Regions from separate parts of the Homo sapiens genome. Here region 1 is linked to region 2. Evidence: fine-mapped QTL for protein levels in blood plasma. A gene starts in region 2. The other region holds a variant in brackets. All regions are shown on one strand. Distances are between the middles of the regions.

Region 1 (2,899 bases), 18 kb after region 2:
TCATCCTGGACTTAAAGAGAAGGGAGGTGGCCGGGCGCACTGGCTCATGCCTGTAATCCCAGCACTTTGGGAGGCCGAGGCGGGCGGATCACGAGGTCAGGAGATTGAGACCATCCTGGCTAACATGGTGAAACCCCATCTCTACTAAAAATACAAAAAAATTAGCCGGGTGTGGTGGTGGGCACCTGTAGTCCCAGCTACTCGGGAGGCTGAGGCAGGAGAATGGCCAGAACCCGAGAGGCAGAGCTTGCAGTGAGCTAAGATCGCACCACTGCACTCCAGCCTGGGCGACAGAGGAAGACTCTGTGTCAAAAAAAAAAAAAAAAAAAAGAGAGAGAGAGAAGGGAGGTGCACAGACCTACCTGGGGATGGAGGGAGGAAGGGAGTGCTTGTGGCCTCCTCGTTCCTTCTACTTCCCTGGAGCCAGCCCCTCGGGCCCTCCCCGCTATGGAGAGTAGAAAGGTGTTGTGCTCAGGCTCTGGGACCCAAATGCTGGTTTGAGTCTTGGTTCTGCATCTTCACCATTGTGTGACCTCAGACTAGTCTTCTACTTGCCCTGTGCCTCAGTTTGCTTATCTCTAAAGCAGGAATGATAAGAACTCTTGTCTCTTAGGGTTGTAGTGAGAAGTGGCTTAAATGCATGTAGAGGGCTTTGAGCAGATCCTAGCGTTTAGCAGACATCAATAACTGTGAGCTATTTTTATTATACTGGGCACTGTGCTAATAAGCAGTTTACTCACATTATTACCCTTGACCTTCCCAACAGCACTGGGAAGTAGGTACCCTCATTATCCCCATTTTGCAGATGGAGAAACTGAGGCTCAGAGAGGGGAAGTAATGCACCCTGGCCACACAGCTGCTGGGGTGTGATGTGATTCAGGGTCTTGGGCTCCGGAAACCACCTTTTAACCCCTCCCCTGTTCTGCCCTTGGGCCACCCATCTTCCTCATGCCCAGGCCTCCCTCCCCGATGCCCCTCCTTCAGCCTGGCTGGAAGGCAGGACAAGGACAAGGCAGGGAGAATGATGTGGCAGGAGCATGGTAATTGAGGGGAGAGGAAGGGGAGCATCTCATCACTGTCATCCACTCCTAAAGCTCCTCCCCAACCTGCCACATTGTTTTGGGCCTTGCAGGCATGGTGGTCTATTGAGACCCCCCTGGAAATGCAGATACCACATATCGTACCCACCTGTGACCAGCCCACAACACATAAAGCCACTAGGAGTGATTGATACCCATCAGACCCAGCTTAGCAGAAGGTGCATTTCATGGCATTCTGGAGGGGGAGGAGGAGGAGGGAGGAGATGAGTCCAGGGACCAGTGACTTTCCCTTGTGGCCCAATAAACCCTACGACCACCGGGGTGGCTGGACTACATCTAGATCCTGCTGCCTTGTGCCCTTCATCACCCCCTGGCTGCCGTCCTTGGCCTGGCCCAAGTTCAGCACTCAGTTCTCATTAGAAGGAATTCAGCACCCTG[G/C]ACAGGGCATTGGGCAGCCCTGTTCTGGGACGCTCTAGAGTCCTTTTGAGAGCCAGCCTAACAGACTGCTCACTGTTCCCTTTTTATTCCAGCCTCTAAGCCTTTACTCCTTCTGTGCCCACCACTTGTTTTGCCTAGCAATGGAATGGTGGATCCATTGTCCTTCCAGACGGGTTTTGACGTGGCTTCTGTTCCCATATCCCCTCTACCTCTGGGCCTCGCAGCCTCTGTACCTCCCATATGCCCTCCGTTATTTTGTCTTATAGCATTGCCCCAAAGTCCTTCCCCTCCTGCAGACTCAGCTCATTTAAGGCGTGGACCAGCTCCACATCCCCAGGATCCACAACAAGGCCAGGCACCACGTAGGCCTCAGAGAATGTTACATTAAATTGTGATCTCAGGCTGGGTAAGGTGGCTCTTGCCTGTAATCCCAGCACTCTGAGAGGCTGAGGTGGGTGGATCATCTGAGGTCAGGAGTTCAAGACCAGGCTGGCCAATATGGTGAAATCCCGCCGTTTCTACTAAAAATACAAAAAAAAAAAAAAAAAAATAGCTGGGCATGGTGGTGCACGCCTGTAATCCCAGCTACTTGGGAGGCTGAGGGAGGAGAATTGCTTGAACCAGGAGATGGAGGCTGTGGTGAGCTGAGATCACACCACTGCACTCTATCCTGGGCAACATAGTGAAATTCCATCTCAAAAAAAAAAATGTGACCTCAGGAAACTTACCAGATGAGGAAGCCCTTTGGGAGCACCAAATCCACAGACAGCAAGCACCTTTCATCTTACAGGCCAGCTCTAACCCATCAGCAGTGGCTTTCCAGAGCACTGTGCTGAGGGATCTGAGCTAAATCGAGGCTCGTGATTGATTGGCTATGTCTGCCCTGGGTGGAGGAAGATTTGCCATCCCTTGCAGACTTGTCATCCCTTGTCTGACCTCACTTTACAGATAAGGAAACTGAGGCCCAGGGAGGAAGGAGCAGCCTCCCCAGATCACACAGGGGTTGGTGGCAGAGCCAGGGCCAGATGCTGGAGCCTGGCCTCTGAGTCCAAGGCTCATTCTATCCCTGCCAGTACTTCTTGAGCCCTAGCTGTGTGCTGAGTGCTGTGTGAGGTGTTCAGGGGAAGTTGGGATTATGAGACATCCCTCTCTCCCCAAGTGACCTTAATAGGCCTGTTGGAGAGTGAGTGAACTACCTTGTGACAACTGAAAACCAAAACCAGAGAGTCCCTTGTGATCTGGTTTGGTCTTTGAGGAAAGAGGAGACAGGAGTCAGGGAAAGACACTGGGCAGGAGGATGGAGAGGGTCAGGCCTGGGGTCGGGCCCTGGAAGGATGGACATGGGTCTCCCCAGCCCCACCCCACTGCCTCAGCCATGGGCCTTGGGCCTTGGGGCACCTCTGACCTGGGGTTGGGGGACC
Region 2 (2,831 bases):
ACGCAGCCACCCGGTGACCTTGGACAGAGGCCTGACCTCAGGTGTCTCAGTTTCCTCATTTCTATTGTGAGCCTGTCCACGGCAAGGCTCAATTGCGACCGAGCTTGTGGCGCGCCCAGTGCACAGCCCCACCCGGAAGAAAGCTCCCTCCCGGGTGGATGTGAACATAACCGGCTTGGGGAGGGGGCCCGAGCACGGGAGGGCTGGGATGGGGGTCACCCAGGAGCCCCGCCGCGCGGCCCTCGGGTCGCCGGCCCCTGCGCTGTGACCGCGGCGAGATAAGGTCCCAGGCGCTGCCCTCGCTCCTCGCCGCATCCCCGGCGGCGCCCCCAGCCGGGCGCCCGGCACTGAACGGGTGCGGGGCTGGGCCGGGGCCAGGGCCGGCCCGGGGAAGCGAGTGGGGCGGGGCCGCCGCGCCCGCTCCCCCTCCCCGCCGCCTGCCGTCTTCTCCTCCTCCCGCCGCCCGGGCTCAGAGCGGCGGCAGCAGCGGCCGCGGCGACAGCTCCAGCTCCGGCTCCGGCTCCGGCTCCGGCTCCGGCTCCCGCGCCTGCCCCGCTCGGCCCAGCGCGCCCGGGCTCCGCGCCCCGACCCCGCCGCCGCGCCTGCCGGGGGCCTCGGGCGCCCCCGCCGCCCGCCTCACGCTGAAGTTCCTGGCCGTGCTGCTGGCCGCGGGCATGCTGGCGTTCCTCGGTGCCGTCATCTGCATCATCGCCAGCGTGCCCCTGGCGGCCAGCCCGGCGCGGGCGCTGCCCGGCGGCGCCGACAATGCTTCGGTCGCCTCGGGCGCCGCCGCGTCCCCGGGCCCGCAGCGGAGCCTGAGCGCGCTGCACGGCGCGGGCGGTTCAGCCGGGCCCCCCGCGCTGCCCGGGGCACCCGCGGCCAGCGCGCACCCGCTGCCGCCCGGGCCCCTGTTCAGCCGCTTCCTGTGCACGCCGCTGGCTGCTGCCTGCCCGTCGGGGGCCCAGCAGGGGGACGCGGCGGGCGCTGCGCCGGGCGAGCGCGAAGAGCTGCTGCTGCTGCAGAGCACGGCCGAGCAGCTGCGCCAGACGGCGCTGCAGCAGGAGGCGCGCATCCGCGCCGACCAGGACACCATCCGTGAGCTCACCGGCAAGCTGGGCCGCTGCGAGAGCGGCCTGCCGCGCGGCCTCCAGGGCGCCGGGCCCCGCCGCGACACCATGGCCGACGGGCCCTGGGACTCGCCTGCGCTCATTCTGGAGCTGGAGGACGCCGTGCGCGCCCTGCGGGACCGCATCGACCGCCTGGAGGTGAGCGCCGCGCGCCGTCGGGGGAGCCGCCCGGGTGGTGTGAGGGGCCGCCCGGCCGCGGTCGTCCGGCGGTCCCCGAGCCTCCGGTCTCCCGTCTGTGTTCCGGGGACGATCGCGCCTTCCTCGCTGGCGAGGCGGGGGGATTTCGATAGGGAACGCGGGCAGGCGTCTGGCACGGTGACTGAGGCACAGAGGGCGCGCCAGAAAGATTCGCTCCCCACCCTTTTCCGTCTCCAGGCACCTCTCTGAGCCTCAGTTTCTGTGTCTGTAAAATAGGTATAACAGTGTCCACTTGTAGTGGAAATTGAATCAAATGTAGGTGTGTGAAAATGCTTGGCACGTACTAGGACCTCATTAAATGTCCCTTTCATTTCCTTCTTCCGGACACCCCCAAATCAGCCCAGCTCCACGCTCACACTTTATGGCCAGGAGATGGATGCGCTGTCCAAAGGACTTGGGGTCCTCCCCTCATTACACAGAGCCGGGAACAGAGTGCCCTATAAGACAAACCTGGGTGCCCCTCACCACCTCCCTACCCTGAATCTCCCACTCTGGCTCAGACTATGACCCAAACCGCAGGAGCTCAGGTGCCAGGCGCCCAGCCTCACACACCTGGAAGCCCACAGCTCTTGGGTGGGGGCTGAATGGAGAACAGGGCCCCCCGAGCTCCTCCTCCTCCACTCACTTTTCCAGGCTTTCCTGACTCAGGCTTGGGGTCAGACACAAGGGGTCCAGCATGGGGGAACCCACTCTTGGCTCTCATGTGACCCTGGGCCAGTCATTTCCCCCCTGGAGTCCCATGGCCACCTTCCTCCCTGTAAGAATGAATTTGGGGCTCCCAGAAGTGCAAGGCAGACAGACTGGGCAGGACAAACATCCGGGACACATTCACTACCCCAGCCATGGCCTGACTTCCAGACCACAAGGAAGGGGGTTAAGCAACAAAATCAGATCTGTGGAAGGAAGAGAGAGAAAGAGGCCAAAGCCCGCGCTGCCCCCTCTGCTACCTCCACCCAGGTGGAGTGCAGCAGGCAAGTTGGAGGGAGGAGAGAGGCGGGGAGTAAATGCAGGGACCCCTTACTCCCGGGGCTTTTTAAGTTAAATCCTGGGCAAGCAGCACTGGTGATGCCCACTCACAAGGCTGAGGATGTCGTGGTCTGACAGCCCTCCAGGACGTCTGTACTGGTGTCAGCACCCTCCCCACAGGGTGTCAGAGTGCAGCCAGTCAGCCATTGCAGCCAACCCCTCACCTTACGGATGAGAAAACTCAGCTCAGAAACGTCCTAAGAGAGGTGGCAGAGGCAGGAGAAAAGCCGGGCCCATACCCACCTCTTCCCCGACTCCAGCTCTGGGGGATTTCTAGGATGAGAGAACCAAGAGCAGGAAAATAATCAGGAAAAAGGTGAAAGTATGCAATGAAGGGAAGTCTTAGTTTTCTCGCCTGTAAAATGGGGATAGTAATAGCACCTACCTCACTGGGATATTAGGAGGATTAAGTACTTTATATGAAAGGCCAAGAATAGTGCCTGGCACACAGGTATGTTCAGTCAATTTGAGTGATGGCTA

Alleles and levels. Positions count from the first base shown, and alleles are read on the strand shown. Strength reflects both the effect of a copy and how common the allele is.
With allele C in place of G in region 1, the plasma level of the protein whose gene starts at base 472 in region 2 is higher (weak association).

Evidence for each region. PIP is the posterior inclusion probability: the model's chance that the variant is causal. Protein levels are from antibody-based Olink assays in UK Biobank. Linkage for the fine-mapping came from a reference panel and not from the study's own genotypes, which makes the PIPs less certain.
Region 1: its variant is fine-mapped to the plasma level of the NPTXR protein (UK Biobank, PIP above 0.99).

The regions. Positions count from the first base shown.
Region 1 is chr22:38,823,272-38,826,170 of GRCh38, reverse strand. All of the region lies in intron 3 of NPTXR (neuronal pentraxin receptor), which reads left to right. Among named protein-coding and RNA genes, the nearest start is that of NPTXR, 19 kb to the left of the region's middle. The variant G/C (reference allele first, on the strand shown) is at 1,479.
Region 2 is chr22:38,841,669-38,844,499 of GRCh38, reverse strand. NPTXR (neuronal pentraxin receptor) reads left to right here and starts at 472. Exons shown (of 5, transcript NM_014293.4): 1 at 472-1,265. The coding sequence starts at 642. RefSeq lists a silencer at 884-953.